2 separate regions of the Homo sapiens genome follow, and region 1 is linked to region 2. A link means that fine-mapping ties the variant in region 2 to the expression of a gene that starts in the linked region. Tissue or cell type: whole blood. Region 2 holds a variant in brackets; the other region holds the start of a gene. All regions are shown on one strand. Distances are between the middles of the regions.

What was found.
Region 1: it holds the start of CPNE2, and the variant in region 2 is fine-mapped to the expression of CPNE2 in whole blood (TOPMed, PIP above 0.99).

The regions. Positions count from the first base shown.
Region 1 is chr16:57,088,849-57,096,848 of GRCh38, reverse strand. CPNE2 (copine 2) reads right to left here and starts at 4,266. Exons shown (of 16, transcript NM_152727.6): 1 at 4,059-4,266. RefSeq lists silencers at 3,775-4,184, 4,245-4,294, 4,405-4,654, 4,675-4,744.
Region 2 is chr16:57,121,790-57,129,789 of GRCh38, reverse strand. It overlaps CPNE2 (copine 2), which reads right to left. Exons shown (of 16, transcript NM_152727.6): 10 at 6,317-6,376; 11 at 3,797-3,930; 12 at 1,887-1,941. Among named protein-coding and RNA genes, the nearest start is that of CPNE2, 33 kb to the right of the region's middle. The variant A/G (reference allele first, on the strand shown) is at 3,676.

The DNA.
Region 1 (8,000 bases), 33 kb after region 2:
TCAGGAGCTGAGGATATCTGGCCTGCCTGATGTGCCCTGGCTGTCCCCTCTCTAAAACACAGGAGGGAATATGCCCAACTCCCAGCAGACAACTCCTGCAATCCCTCTTTCCTTTGGTTGGACCCCAAGTCTTTTTTTTTTTTTTTTTTTGAGACATGGTCTCACTGTTTCACCGAGGTTGGAGTACAGTGGCACAATCATGGCTCACTGCAGCCTCGACCTCCTGGGCTCAAGCAATCCTCCCACCTCAGTCTCCCAAGTAGTTGGGACTACAGGCATGCACCACAACACCCAGCTAATTTTGTTTATTTTTTATTTTGGTAAAGACGGGTTTTTGCCATGTTGCCCAGGCTGGTCTTGAACTCCTGGGCTCAAGTGGTCTGACTATCTTGGCCTCCCTCAGTACTGGGATTACAGGTGTGAGCCACCACGCCCGGCTCTCCCATCAGTCTTTCAGAGACATGCCCAACCTGAGAAAAGTGTATTGTAAGAGTGCAGTGAATGCTGGGAGCTGAGCTACTGGGTTTCAAACTCTGGTTGGCCATGGGCTAGTTGAGCACCACACACTGGATGGCTTAGATTCTCTCACAGTTCTGTAGGCTACAAGTTTGAAATCCAGCTGTCAGCAAGGCCATGCTCCTTCCAGCACTCAGTATGGTAAGCCAGAGATCCCTCCAGAGACTCAAGAGGGCAAGCTCGTAATTCTCCCAGGATCCATCACTCAACATCACAGACTCATTTAACAGGAGGCTGCAAAGAGGGGCAGGTGCAGTCATTCCTCACACAAGGATTTACTGAGCACCTACAATGTGCCAGGCACTGTTCTAAGTGCTGGGACATGGCCCTAAACAAGACAGACACTGTTTGCTCTTGCCTTTTTGTGGATCTGACACCCTTTGGGGAGGGAGGCAGATAAGCTGGTGCACCAATGAGTAAAGAAGATGGTTTTAAAGAGTGGCAAATGCCCCAAGAAAAATACAACCAGGAGATGCAGCAGTGAGGAGGGATGGTGACACAATCTCACTAGTCAGTCTCATTGCAGACCTCAGAGCAAGTGTGGCCAGATAAGTAAGAAATGTTCCATGGTCGGGCACAGTGGCTCATGCCTATAATCCCAGCACTTTGGGAGACCGAGGTGGGTGGATCACCTGAGGCCAGGAGTTCAAGGCCAGCCTAACCAACATAGCAAAACCCCGTCTCTACTAGAAATACAAAAATTAGCTAGGTGTGCACCTGTGATCCCAGTTACTTGGGAGGCTAAGGCACAAGAATCGCCTGAACCTGGGAGGTGGAGGTTGCAGTGAGCTGAGATCACACCAGTGCACTCCGGCCTGTGTGACAGAGCAAGATCCTGTCTCAAAAAATAAATAAATAAAAAATAAAAAAAGGAAGAAAGAAAGAAATATTCCAGGGTATGGAACAGCAGTCTTCTTGACTCTGCCATGGGAGTGACAGCCGAGGTCCAGTGGCCCAATGAGGGCAGAAGACATTGGGATGTGAGCCAGGAGGCGCCTCTAACCTGGGCTCTGTCCTCAGGCACTGTGGGACCCCTATGTCCTCCCTTCTGGACAGGGAGGTGGGGAGATGTGTGATTGTGGACTTTTCTAGATGCTGCCTGCCAAGATCACAGGGTGACCTGGCATCCCAGCTCCCACAGAGCCCACACCACCGTGTCTGGCAGGGTTGGGGGAGATCCCACCTCCACTCCCTGAGGCCATATTCTGCAAGGGGGAAGGAGCTGGGTCCTCAAGGTGTTTTGCTCCTGATTCGGTAGCCCCAGTGCCATCTATGAATAAGGTTCAGGGGAGGGGAGAGGGACAGAGACCTCCATCAGGCTGGGGGCACCCTGACCCTGAGCTGAGGGCTTCTCAGATCGGGACCGTGCCTGGCGATGATGCCTCCTGCTCTGACAGGAGGGAGAAAATTACTAGAGAGTGCTCTTTTGTTTTCTGTTCACTCCTTAGAGCCCTGTGAGGCCAGCCAGATGTGGGGAAATGGGGACACCTGGATGAGACCTACCACTTCTCCTGGTCTTCTTTCACCCCAGGCCCCTGCCCCTAGAACAGCCCAGAAGTCCTGACGGGAGGGGGAGGAGCAAGCTGGCCTGAGACAACCCCACAAAGGATCCTGGATGCAGTCACCCACATCAGGCTTCTTAATATTCCCATGGATAATGACAATGACAGTTAACCAGGCACTCACCACGTACCAATAAGTGCTGGCACCCGAGTCCTTGCAATCTAATTTAATCCTACCTTTGCAGAAATACACAATTACCTGAAAAGAATATGAAGGTGTATAGATATAAAAACTGAGGACTGGGAGGAGGACCAGATGGGGTCCAGTACTTACTGTTTTACAGACATAGAAACCGAGGCTCCATTCTCAGCCATCTTCTTCCCTTATGCCCCAGTTTTTAATTCTCATGACATTCCAGAGGGAGTGTCCGTTGGAACACCACCAGAGACACCACACTTGCCACTCATGAAGTGCTCCCTACTTGCAGAACGTCTGCTCCCTGTTCCCCAGTTCCAGCCTCCCAGCCGCCCTACTGTAAGCTGGATCATGTCACAGTTTGCCTCATTTTACAGACAGAAAACCCCCCAAGTCCAAGGGGTGACAAGGCACGCAGACAGGAAGTGACGGCCGCAAAACGAACCCAAGCGTCCACATCCTTCGTCCCTGGTTCTTTCCATGGAGAAACCTGCCTGGGTGACCCCTTCCAATCCAGCTGGCTGGGGCGGTCCTGGAGCTCACCTGGACCTATGCCAGGCGGAATGCCATAAAACCACGCCTTCATGCTGTGTCCATTCTCCAGGAGGCAGGCCCCGGAACATCAGCCCATTTCACAGATGGTGACCCAGAGGGCCACAGGGGGGGAGGGTCTGGGCCAAGTTCCCTGTTGGTCATAGGTGGGGTTCAGACCCAGGTCTCCCAGGCCTCCCCATCAGGGCAGGCTGCAGCTGCCAGGGATTACAATCTGCGCACACCGCCTGTTTCCTGAAAACCATGGGCTCCCTGCAGTCCGTGAAGCTGTGGATGCCCAAGGGGCAGAAAAAGCCCCCCAACCTTTGATGACAGCACACACCTCTAAGGGAGCAAAAAACTAAGGCAGACAAAAAAAAGGGCGTTTTGTCTGGAAGATCATTCTTCCAGACCCCTTGTCCCTTCCCCCAGTACATATGGGGCAGGGGATTCAGATGCAAGATGAACACCCTATTAGCTACCAGAGCCAGCAGCATCTGTGACCTTGGGCAAATCACAGCCCCCTTTGAAGCAGCCCCTTCCCCATAGGAGAGCTTCTTGAACTCGGGGGGACGTGGAGCGAGGCTGGGGGATGGGGTGGGAAGAGCAGGGAAGAGGGTGTAAGACCCCTCTATTTTCAGAGGAGCATCGCTGTGAGAAACGGGGAATAAGAGAGGGCCTTGTTCGCCCGCTCTCTCCATGCCCACCCCCACACCCCCTTTAAACACACAGGTGCCAGACAGCTTTTTCGCAAAAACTAGTTTGCAAACACACTCCGACTTCTGGGAAGCTGCCCAGCTCCACTCCCCCTCTGCGCTCCCAGTACCGGGGCTGGGAGCCGGCCCTCCGGCAGTTGCCTGGGGCAGGGGGTGGGTGTTGAGGGGTGGGAGGAGGGCAGAGGGGAGCGGAGAGGAGCCAGCGCCCGCCGAGAGCCAGGGCGACCTCACGCCTTCAGCAGCTGCGGCAGCGGCGGGTCTCCACCTCCCGTACGCCCTCCAAGCCCCTCGGGGCGGGTGGAAGGGTCCCCAAAGCAGCTGGGCTCGGACCCCCGAGGGCGCCCCCCTCCCCAGGGACCCCGCCCGCCCTTCCCCGCAGTCCGGGAGCCGGCGGGGCGCCCCCGCGTGGCCGGGTCGGAGCTGAGTCACCGAAGCGCCGGAGTCCGGGTTCGCGCTGGCGGCGGGGGCTAGAGCGCCGCAGCCCCCCGAGGCGGAACCCGGGTTCCTTCGGACCCGCAGCTGGATCAAAGAGCCCAGCCCCAAGGCCGAAGTTGGGCACTCACGCCAAGCTGCCCCGCCTGCCCGGGCCCCACTCACCGCAGGTCCCGCGGGCGCCACCGCCCTCACCGCACGGCTGCCGCTGCCCGCGCTCCGAGCCGCCCGGGCATCCCCGGGAGCTGCTCCTGCTCGGCCGGGCCCGCGGGCGCGGGACAGGCTCAGGGCGCTGCCCGCGCGGCCACGGCCCGCTCGCGTGCGCTCCCAGCCGCTCGGGGTCCGGTCCTCCTCCCGGGCCGGGCGGGCGGGCGGCGGCGGCGGCGGCGGCTCGGGCTCCTCCCTCCGGCCGAGGAGGGGAGTGGGGAGGGAAGTGGGAGGCGAGGCGGGAGCTTCCTGGAGGGGCGCGCGCTCTCCCACGGGAGGAGCGGGGGCGCTGTCCCGCCCGCAGTCCGCCGCTCCCAGCCCGCGCCCGGCGCGCCGCGGCACTCGGGGCGCCTGGCACCGAGGGGGCCCGAACGTTCGGGCCGAACGCGAGGGTCCGAAGGTTCCAGGCTGGGACTCAGGTGGCTGAGGATCGGAACAACGCGGCTTCGCGCCCTCCCCAGGCCTGCTTTGCCCGAGCCTCTGGCACCTCCGAGTTCCGAGCGCCGTGCGCTCAGGGCCACCGACGCGGGAACAGAGGGGTGGCCTCAGCCCGGGCCTGCGGGGCCCCAGGGCCGCTTGGACCCCCAGCGCCGATGGGAGCGGCGCTGCGCCCTCGGGGCAACACCCAAGGCTGGGTTCTGGGTTGTATTGGGCAGGATTAGGGCCGCAGTGTTTTCTTCCCTTTTTTTTTTCAATAGCAAAAGAGCTCGGCATTTTCTTGCCGCCAGAGATTGGAAATATGACATATTTCTCTGACACAGACGATAAGATAAAGACGGATCCGAACTGGGCCTGGGTCTACTCATCCGTGCGGAAAATTAGGCGAGTCTTTAAGGCCTTGGAGCCCAGGCCTCCTTTTCCCTAGAAGAGGCACCAATTCTTAGGACACTTGTCTGTCGCTGGGCGCTCAAGCCTTTGGCCACTCCGCGGTATTTAGGTGCTCTCTGGGCAAGTTCACCACCGGGCATCAGAAGGCTGAGCCTCACGTAACCAGATTCTGGGGGGCGGGGCTTTCCCGGGGATCTCAAGGCCATGTCCACAGCCCTTGGCCCTGGGGCTCAAGGACTGGGCAGCTGAGGGTTAATGCCGAGTGCTTCCATTGTGGCTTTTCGATTCCAGGCAGGTGAGGGTTAATGTGGGAGCCTCGCGCGCTGCAGCCTGTGAGCCTCCCTCCACGTCTGAGTCACTGGCACTTTGCAGCCTTACAGGGGCCGAGACTAAACAGCCCCCGGGGCTCTGAGCTTTGTTCTCTGCCTGCCTGTCACCCATCCATCTTTCCTTTCTCCAAGCTCTCTTCACCTTTCTTCCACCGAAGCCAATCAAAGCCCTCTGCCCCGCTCTGGGGCAAACCAACCTATCAACCCAACTCCAGCCCCGCTTCCTCCAGGAAGACTTTCCTGATTGCTCTGGCCTCAGAATCTGTCTCTTGTCTTTCCAGCAGCAGGAGAGCCAGGCACTGGGATGGACAGTGGTGAACCAAAGCAGATAGTCTCTCTCAAGTTGCTCACCTGTGGGGGCCAAGATCAGGACCCAGGCCATCATATCACCATATGAAATGTGCAAAGATTGGAGGTAGGGTGGCACAGAAGACCCAACTCAGCCATGGGAGTCAGCGAGGCTTCCTTTAAGAAACCTGAAGGATGAGATAGTTGGGCCTGTCAAGGAAGATACTAGATCCCTAGCCAAGGAGGCAGAGTACAAAGGCCAGGGGTCACAGCAATTCCACTCCTAGATATCTACCCGGGAGAAATGAAAACATATGGCCACACAAAACATACACAAATGTACGTAGCAGCATTATTCATAATAGCCAAAAAGTGGAAACCACGCAAATGTTCATCCACTGATGAATGGAAAAACAAAATGTGGTATATCCACACAACATAGAATATTATACAGCCATAGAAAGGTACGAATTACTGGCCAGTTGTGGTGGCTCACACCTGTAATCCCAGCACTTTGGGAGGCCAAGGCGGGCGATTACTTGAGGTCGGGAATTCAAGACCAGCTTGGCCAACATGGCAAAACTCTGTCTCTACTAAAAATATAACAATTAGCCAGGCGTAGTGGCAAGAACCTGTAATCCCAGCAATTCGGAAGGCAGGAAGGAGAATCACTTGAGCCCAAGAGGCGGAAGTTGCAGCCAAGATTGCGCCACTGTACTCCAGCCTGGGTGACAGAGGGAGATTCCATCCCCCCTCCAAAAAAAAAAAGAAAGGAAAAAAAGAAAGGTGGGAAGTACTGATACATGCTACAGTATGGACAAACTTGGAAAATATTATGCCCAGTGAAAGAAGCCAGTCTCAGACAAATATTACATGGCTCCATTTAGATGAAATGTCCAGAATAGACAAATCCACAAACAGACAAAGCAGATTTGTGGTTGCCTCGGCCGGGGAGTGGAGAATGGGGAGTGATTGCTATTGGCAAAGGGTTTCTTTGGGAGATGATAAAAAATGTTCTAAAGTTAGATTCTAGGCAGAGTGCGGTCCTGCCTGTAATCCCAGCACTTTGGGAGGCCGAGGCAGACAGATTACTTGAGGCAAGGAGTTCAAGACCAGCCTGAGCAACATAGTGAGACCCCACCATCTCTACCAAAAAAAAAAAAAAAATTAGCCGGGTGTGGTACCTGCCTGTAGTCCCAGTTAGGAGGCTGAGGTGGGAGGATTGCTTAGGAGGTTGAGGCTGTGGTGAGCCATGATCACACCACTGCACTCCGGCCGGGGTGACAGAACAAGACCCTGTATGAAAAAAAAAAAAAGTTAGATTATAGTGATGATTGCACAACTGTAGGTATTCTTAAAACCACTGACTTACACACTTTAAAAGGACAAATGTCATGGTGTATGGATTATATCCCCATAAAGCTATCTTTAAAAAAAAGGCCAGGGATCAGGAGAGCCCTGAAGAAGTTGATTAAGGCCAAGGATCCATCACAGGTTGATTCTACATGCTTTATCCTCATTCCACACCCAACACAAGACTGCAAAATGTTAAACGAAGTCTTTCCCTGCCCAGGTGGAGACCTCTCAGTGCACAGTGGGAGGCCTGAAGGCCCCGAAATAGACCCATGTCAGGGTATGTGTGTCAACACCTGCCATCTGGGTGTTTATTTTCACAGTCCAGGCTGTTTGGACAAACGGATCAGAATACCCAGGTTTGCCCATGCATGTCAGTGTGCTCGTGAATGAAAGACACATTGAAGGAGCGCCAGCTGTTCAGGGATCTGGCTGGGCCAGGAGTGTGTGAGGACTGGCGGAGGGAGGGTGTTCCAGTTATTTATGTTGCATCGCAGATCACCCCAAAACTTATCCCTCACACTTCCGGGGTCCTCAGGGCTCATCGAGGGCAGGTGTTGCACAGTGTTTCCCATACAGTTGCAGTCAGATCATGGTGGTGGCTGAAATTGTCTAGAAGGCTTTCTTGAACATATGGCTATCACTGGACGCTGGCTGTCATCTGGAACCTCAGCTGGAATTGTCAGCTGGAACACCTACCTGAGACCATTCCTTGTAGCCTGGGCTTCCTAGTGGCATGGCATAGGGTTCCATGAGTGAGCATTTCAAGAGAGGCAAGTGGAAGCGTTATCATCTGTTTCAGGCCCTTGCCTTGGGAGTCACATAATGTCACTTCTGTTGTAGTCACAGAGGGGTGTCACCGTCACATAATAGGAAGAGCATGTGGGACGGAAGATACTGTGATGGCTGTCTTTAGAAAATACCATGTGCCACAGGGGGTTGATATGGAAACATATCAGGATCCTTGAGGGATCCCCTCAAGGATCTCCTGGTTAGAGGCAGGTGTGGCTGACTCCATTGTCAAACCTCAGGCATGGAGTCATGGCCATGAGTTTGAATCCCAGCCGCTCAGCGGCTGCCTAGGTGAAATCACTCAATCCTC
Region 2 (8,000 bases):
TGGAGTGCAGTGGCACGATCTCGGCTCACTGCAACCACTGCCTCCCGAGTTCAAGTGATTCTCCTGCTTCAGCCTCCCAAGTAGCTGGGATTACAGGCATGTGCCACCACGCTGGGCTAATTTTTGTATTTTTAGTAGAGACGGGGTTTTGCCATGCTGGCCAGGAAGATCTCAAACTCTCTGACCTCAAATGATCCATCTGCCTCAGCGTCCCAAAGTGCTGGGATTATAGGCGTGAGCCACTGTGCCCAGCCATCATCCACCTTTCTCCTGGGACTCCCACCTTACCATCTCCCCTGCTGAGCCTAGCACCCACCCCGTTCCTCATCTCAGTAAGCAGCACCACCCCCGCCTCAGTGCCCAGTTGGAAATCTTGGTGACCTCTTCGGCCCACACTCACTTGGTCACACAGAAAGTCCTGGCCTCTGCCCTGAGTTTCCTTGCCTTCGCCCCTTCTCTCCACCCTCCACTCTGCCCACTCTCGCCCTAGCCACGCCCCACTCAGCAGCCAGGAGAGGCCTTTAGAAATGCCAATCTGCTGATGAGCCCCTATGTGGTCCCTGCAGGGGTCCCCGTGGCCCTTTAACGCCCACATCTGTCTCCACCCTGCTCACCTCCAATGGAGGGTCTATCACCCACCTCTGCCAGTTCCTCCAGCTCGTCCTGCAGGCTTCGCACAGTCTGTTCTCTGCCCTGAAGGCTCCCCCTGCCCCACTGCCACCTCTAGTCACTCTGCTACTTCCCTTTCCCCTCTTGGCTTAGAGCTTGCCCCCTCCAGGAAGCCTGATGGCCCCAAGCTGGGTTGGGTTACCTCCTCGGCTCCCCACAGGCCTACGGTGCCCCCACCTCAGCACCGATGACACTACCTGTCTTTAGTGTTGCCATATAGAATACAGGATGCCCACTATGACTCAGAAACAGAAAACAAAAAACTGCATGTTCTCCCTTATAAGACGGAGCTAAACAATGGGTGCACACAGAACAGACACACAGAGGGGAATAACAGACACTGAGGACTCCACACAGCGAGAGGATGGAGGGGTGACGGATGAAATGCCACCTACTGGGTACAATGTACATTATTTAGGTGATGAATACACTAAAAGTCCATATTTCACACAATACGTCCTCGTAATACAACTATACTTGTACCCCTAGATCCATACAAAACCTTGAATTTCAGATAAACAATGGATGATTTAAGTATAAGTATGTCCCATGAAATATTCAGGACATACTTATACTTTAAAAATTGTTTATCTGCACTGGTCACAGTGGCTCAGGCCTGTAATCCTAGCACTTCGGGAGGCTGAGGCCGGTGGATCACCTGAGGTCAGGAGTTTGAGACCAGCCTGGTCAACATGGTAAAACTCTCTACTAAAAATACAAAAGTTAGCTGCGGGGTGGTGGTGGGCACCTGTAATCCCAGCTACTCGGGAGGCTGAGGCAGGAGAATTGTTTGAACCTGGGAGGCGGAGGTTGCTGTAAGTGGAGATTGTGCCACTGCACTCCAGCCTGGGCAACAGAGCAAGACTCTGTCTCTAAATAAATAAATAAATAAAAATAAACACATAAAAATAAACATTGTTTACCTGAAATTCAAACTTAACTGGGTGTCTTGTATTTTGATTTGCGACATCTGGCAATCCTATCTGTCTCCCCCACTCCACATGGGTCTCATAAACAGAGAACATAACGTGCTGCCCCGTTACAGCCTCAGTGCCTGCCCAAGGATCAGGCTTGAGAAATGAGCGTGGCCTGGGGTGAACACAGGGAAGGCAGGGCAACAGGGCCCCAGCCCAAGACCTTTCCAGAGCTGATCCCCGAGAGGCCACACACACAAACCCCATCTCAACCAAAAGGAAACTAACTCCGGTTTCACTCACCTTCCAGTCTGGGGGTAACTGGGCCCCGAATCCCAGAGCTGGAAACATCTTATCACTAATCAGAGAGAGAAGAGAAACACACTGTAAGACACCTGAGGACACCACCCGACCCTCTGCCCAGGGCTGGGCCCACTCTGCCTCATACACTTCCAAGGACAGAAAGGAGGAGCTCACCACCTCTAGAAAAAGCTGTTAGGATCATCTACCTAATGAGCCCAACCCACCTCTGGGGACCTGGTGAACATGTGGCCTGACCACATCTATACCTGTGGCAGACACGACAATGGTACTTCTAACCAATGGGCCTGGGCACAGCTTCTAGATCCTTCTCAAACTGAGACTTCAGCCAGCCACTAAACCAAGGTCAGGAGGTCAAGATGGAAGTAGAATGAATGTACTGGCTGTCTCTCAGCCTCCTGCTCATAGCTGGGGAAAACTCTACTAATATGAGAACCCTCCTGTGGCATTCAAGGTCCTGTGTCATCCAGTCCCAGAGCCTAGTCTTATCTCCTTCCACCCACGCCCCTTCACACCCCACTCCCCTAGCCCTGGCCACTGGCCACTTGCTATTCCCCAAACACATAGGGTACCTTCACATTCCAACTTCAATGCTGTTGTGCCCCCATCTGTAACATCTCTCCCTAATCTGTTTCCTCTAGCAAACTCCTACTCATCCTCTAAGGCCCAATCAAAATGGCCCCTTCGCTCTGTAGATTTCCCTGATACCCTAAAATGCCTCTCTTTTTGTGCTCCCATAGCTCCTGCTTCACATGTAAACTGGTCTCTCAGAACTCCGACGATTTCTTCCTTATCTTCCTCTTTAAGTGAGAACTCCCTGAGGACAGGGACCACATTTCATTTGTATGTGCACTCAACAGACATCTACTAAGGATCCCTTTGGCTGCCGTGGAGGGGACACACAGCTGGGGGCCAGGGCAGAAGCAGGGAGACTGATGAGGAAGCTAATGAAATGATCTGGGCACAAAGTGATGGTGGCTCAGCCAGGCATCTAGAGCTCACTGGGGCCATGCTAAGTCTTAATGCCCATTAGACAGCTCGGTGATGGGCTGAATGGGCAGCTGGACACCTGGGACTCCACCCAACCATGCTGATGATGACTTCCACCTCCCTTGCTCTGCATGTTGTACAGATCCCTGGCTGCCCCTCTCTAGGAGGCCAAGTCCACACAGGGCTCCTGAGCCTGCTGTCTTTCCTGCCAAATCTCTGGCACCTGCTTCTTCCTCCCCTGTTCCCAATGTGTCAGCCTCCTGGTCATTCCATCCTCTGACCTGGAGCTCCCAATCAGCACCATCTGTGACAGTGATGTCATATCCTGTTGGTAGCCACACCTGCCACACTTTCACACAGCTTCCCTTCACTGACTTTCCGTGGTACCCAGCCCGACCCAAAGGTCCCCAGGAAGCAAGGTCATGGGAGGAGGGTCCGTGCATGCTAGCTGCTCCTCAGAAGTTCCCAATAGAAGCGAGACCATTAGGGAACTAGGCGCCAGGCCCAGGAACCAGAATGGCTGGCCTCTGGTCCCATGATCTGCGGGACCTGGAACAAATTTTCCACTCCCACCCCAGGCCTCCCATTCCCCAGCTCTAAAAGGAGAGGATGCAGCAATAATGAATGAGTTTAATCTTCCATCATGATTCATTTTCTTACTGGCTACTTGGTGTACTGTGTAGAAAACGATCCCAGTTTGAATCTGCGCTTGGCAGGTTAGAGTTCAGCAATTGATTAGCAATGTCTGCCAAGGGTATGGGAATGGGTAATAACTGCACCT[A/G]TGCCATTTGCTGTCCATTCCTAGATTTGATGATCTCTGGGTCCCTTCTAGCTTTGATACACTGAGCTTCCCAGGTTGGATGGAACCCTAGCTGACCTTCAGAGCCCCTCTCCAACCTTACCTGTCGTAGTCCTGAATGATCTGCCCAACAGCCCAGATGGCCGACAGATATTCGTTGGTGCCCATAGGGTTGATATAGTGCAAAGAGGAAGGGTCGAGGGGATTCCCGTTGGAGGCTGTAAAGTCTATTCCAACCTGCAGAGTGGAGAAAAAGGCCACCCAGTGGGGCCAGAGACCCCAGCACCCTATCCCACTCCCAGGGAATAGGAGAGGTAGATGGGACATGGGAAGCCCACTCATCTCCCAGCCCTCCCCACAATAAGATGGTCTGAAACCTAGAAATGCTCTGATTGTATCACTCCTCTGCTCTAATGCCATCTGTGGCTCTCTATTGCCCAAGCATAAAGTCCACTGCCTAGATGTGATGACATAAGAGACTAACGTACAGTCCCAGATTCCTTTTTCTCCTTACTATCCCTATCCACACATTCATCTGTTCCCATATGCAGGCATTTATTCATAAGCTTCGCTCTGCATGCAGAGCCAGGCTATCGTTTCTTCCCGTCTAACTTTGCTCCATCTTCCAGGCCCAACTCAGATGCCACTGCTCCACTGCAACCTTCCCAGATAACCTCACCCCCAACCCAAGCCATCTCCCCATTATCCCTCAGACCACCAAGGGGCCTGGGACCTGGGGTTGCCTGGTAGAGCAGTGCCCGTCTCCCCGATCAGCTGGGAGCTCACCGCAGCACGTACTCTGGAGAAGCCTGGCCCAGGGCTGGGAACAGCAGACAAGGCAGGTGCTTATTAACAGGGACTCGGGGCTGATGGGCAGGCAGGGACTAGGGCTCTACCTGCTCTCTCAGCCCCAGAGAATCCCAGCCCAATCCCTGGAGAAAGGGCACAGAGGGGTAGGCAAGAACAACCCCTGCCCAGCAGGGGAGGGTTAGAAGTAGGACCCCGGGGAAGATTTGGCTACATGGGAACTCAGTTGCTGTGGGGTAGGAGAGAAGGGGCCACCCATCCAAATCCTCACATGGCTAGAGGGTCACTCCCCCAGGTCAGGGGCAGCATGTCTTAGTCCTTGAGGGACCGCTGCAGGGACACAGCCTAGAGCCCGGCACAAAGGAGGCAGTCAGTGTGAGTTCGCTGAATGAACAAACTCGTGCAGGAGGAACAGGAGGGCCTGGCCTCTGTGCAGGGGAGGGGGCAGTGGTGGGCAGCAGGGTCAGAAGTCAGCAAGGCCAATCCTCTGACTCCATGGCATCCTGTGATGCCCTCCATTTCCCATTAGGATCTAGGGGTGGTGATGGGGAACGGTGAGACAACATGGGGAGGTGGGCAGAGCGTGGCACCCCAGCAGCTTCCTCCCTTCTGGGCCTGAGGCTCCCTTGGGGTGAGGAAGCAAAGCCAGGATGAGTGGCACAGAGTCTGTGGGGCAAAGACTCCAGGCCACAGGCAAGGTGGCAGTTCATTCTTCCAACGAGAAATGATGGAGCACCTGCTATGTGCCAGTTACTGTGTGATATGCTGGGGTTGGAGTGGAAGCAAAATAAACAAAGTGCCCACACTTAAAAGCACTCACATTCCAGTGGGTGCGACGATCAGGGAGAAGCGACAAATGCATATGAATCTCGGGGCGGCAAGTGCCCAGAAAATAGGAAAATAGTGAGGGCCAGGCCCAGTGACTCATGCCTGTAATCCTAGCACTTTGAGAGGCCAAGGTGGGCAGATCGCTTGAGCCCAGGAGTTTGAGACCAGCCTGGGCAACATAGCAAAACCCCATCTCTACAGAAAATGCAAAAATTAGCTGGGCATGATGGCATGCACCTGTAATCCCAGCTACTCAGGAAGCTGAGGTGGGAGGATCAACTGAGAGCTGAAGGTGGAGGCTGCAGTGATCTGAGATCGTGCCACTGCACTCTAGACCACGTGACAGAATGAGACGCTGTCTCAAAAAAAAAAAAGAAAAGAAAAGAAAAGAAAAGAAAGAAAATAGGAAGATATGACAGAGGAGCAGCAAGGCATTGAGGGAGGGAGGGCTCCCTGGAAGGTGACCTCCGTTACCTCCTCAGGCCTGAAAAATGGCAGGTAGGCAGCCATGCAAAGGTTCTGGGGAAGTGTTTCAGGCAGAGGGAACAACAAATGCAGAAGGAACAGCAAATGCAAAGTTCTAACATGAAGCAAAGCTTGGCATGTTGGGCAAACAGAGGAAGAGTGTGGTTAGAGCCCAGTGAGCAAGGAGGAAGGAGGCTGCAGATGAAGGAGGCAGGGATCGCTGAAGGCCTTGTGGCCAGTGAGGAGGAATTTGTTTTCCTCCACCCGCAGAAGGAGTGTAGCCACCAGACTGAAAGCTGTGCAGCTGTGCTCTGACCTGTAGTTAAGCCCCAACTCAGGCACACCCAGCAGGACCAGACAGCCCACTTATGCCCTCCTCACTAGGCCGCACACACTCTTTGCCCCAGGGAAGTCCTTCCTGAAGTCTACCCTAAGTCCCTCTGGCTGCACTAGTGGCCCAAGTCTTCAGGGAGGACCCTCACTGGGATGGGGGTGCAGAGGGAGCCAGCGGGGAGAGCCTTACGGTGAACATGAGCTGGCAGCCTCCCAGGATGTAGTCAAGGAAGGAGTAGTCTCGGTTTATCTGGAAGAAAGCGGATGAGTCAGTGGGTCCCCTTGACTTGGTCACACTCCCCATGGGGGAGTTGTTGCTCTATGTCCTGCAACCTCAGTAGGGACAAGGAGGTCAAAAAAAGCTGATGGGCCTGATCTAATTACAACAAAACCCAAATCTCTCTATAACAAAGCCTTCAGTGCAATGGTTCCTAATGGGTGGGGGACTCACAGAGACCCCCACACCCCACAGATACACAGACACATGCTGGTTCCAGGCAGGGTGCCAGGGCCCAGTGTCAGTTACCTGACACAGAGTGTCTCAATTTGTCACTGTTAGGTACTTACCTTCTCCTGGCCCTTATTAATCTACCTTTTTAACAAAGAGAAAGAGCAGGCCTCCAGCTCAAGGCCTTCCTCTAGAAGTTGTTTTGATGGTCTTTGTCTCTTTTTGGCAAAGAAGGCAGATCTTTTAATTTTGGTAGAGTTCTAATAATCTCTTTCTAAATAAATGTATTTAAGTTAAAAAAAAAAAAAAAGAGAAAAGAAACAGGCCAGGTATAGTGGCTCATTCCTGTAATCCTAGCAGTTTGGGAGGCCAAGGCAGGCAAATCACTTGAGGTCAGGAGTTCAAGACCAGCCTGGTCGACATAATGAAACCCCATCTCTACTAAAAACACAAAAATTAGCCAGGCGTAGTGGCATGCACCTGTAATCCCAGCTATTTGGGAGGCTGAGGCAGGAGAATCCCTTGAACCTGGAAGGCGGAGGTTGCAGTGAGCTGAGATCACGCCACTGCACTCCAGCCTGGGCAACACAGTGAGACTCTGTCTCAAAAACAAAAACAAAAAACAATAATACAGGGAAGAAAGACTGATTCAAAAAAATAAGTAAGGCAGGTGCCAGAAATTGTGAAAAGTGATGTGAATGATGGAAACTTCAGAAACAAGGACCATCCATCACAAGGCTGCAACCTGACATCTTGACCTTTAACGGAGTGCTTTTTTGTCGTGACACCACTGAATGTTCGTGTAAACCCTAGCCAGACGAGGCTCCAAATAAGGTGGGAGTCTGGGATCCACCTGCTGGTGGAGAGCAGCGGCCAGACTCCTGAGCTGTCAGGCCCTGAGCCCAGGTCTCTTGCTCTCCTGCCCCAGGCTGCCTTCCTTAATGTTCTGCCAGATCCAGCAGTTATTTGCCCACCAGGTCTTCTGGCCCCCACCCACAGCCTGGCCACTGCTGACATGAACTTCATTGCCTTTCTGGGCCTCAGTGGCCCCGGCTGTACCATGGGAGTCACAGTGACGCTGATGCCAGAGAGGACAGGGTGTCCCCACCCAATGTCCTCTGCCCCTTGCATGCCCACCGTGGGCGGCAGCAACTCGCAATGACAATTCTCCCACCAGGACAGGCCCTGGAAGGTCAGCTCGTGCCTTCCCTGGCCTCCACACAGGAATGTGAGAGAAGAGTAACCCTGGACATGCTCTGCCTCGTTAATATCTCCATTCCACAGATGAGGAGACTGAGGCCTGGTGAGGTGAAGCTCAGAAGGCCATAGGGCCAGGATGTGGCAGAGCCGGGATTTGAACACAGGCCTCGCTGGCTCCAGATCCAGTGCTCTGTCTGTCCCTTCTGTGTGGCCTGAAACCTGGCCC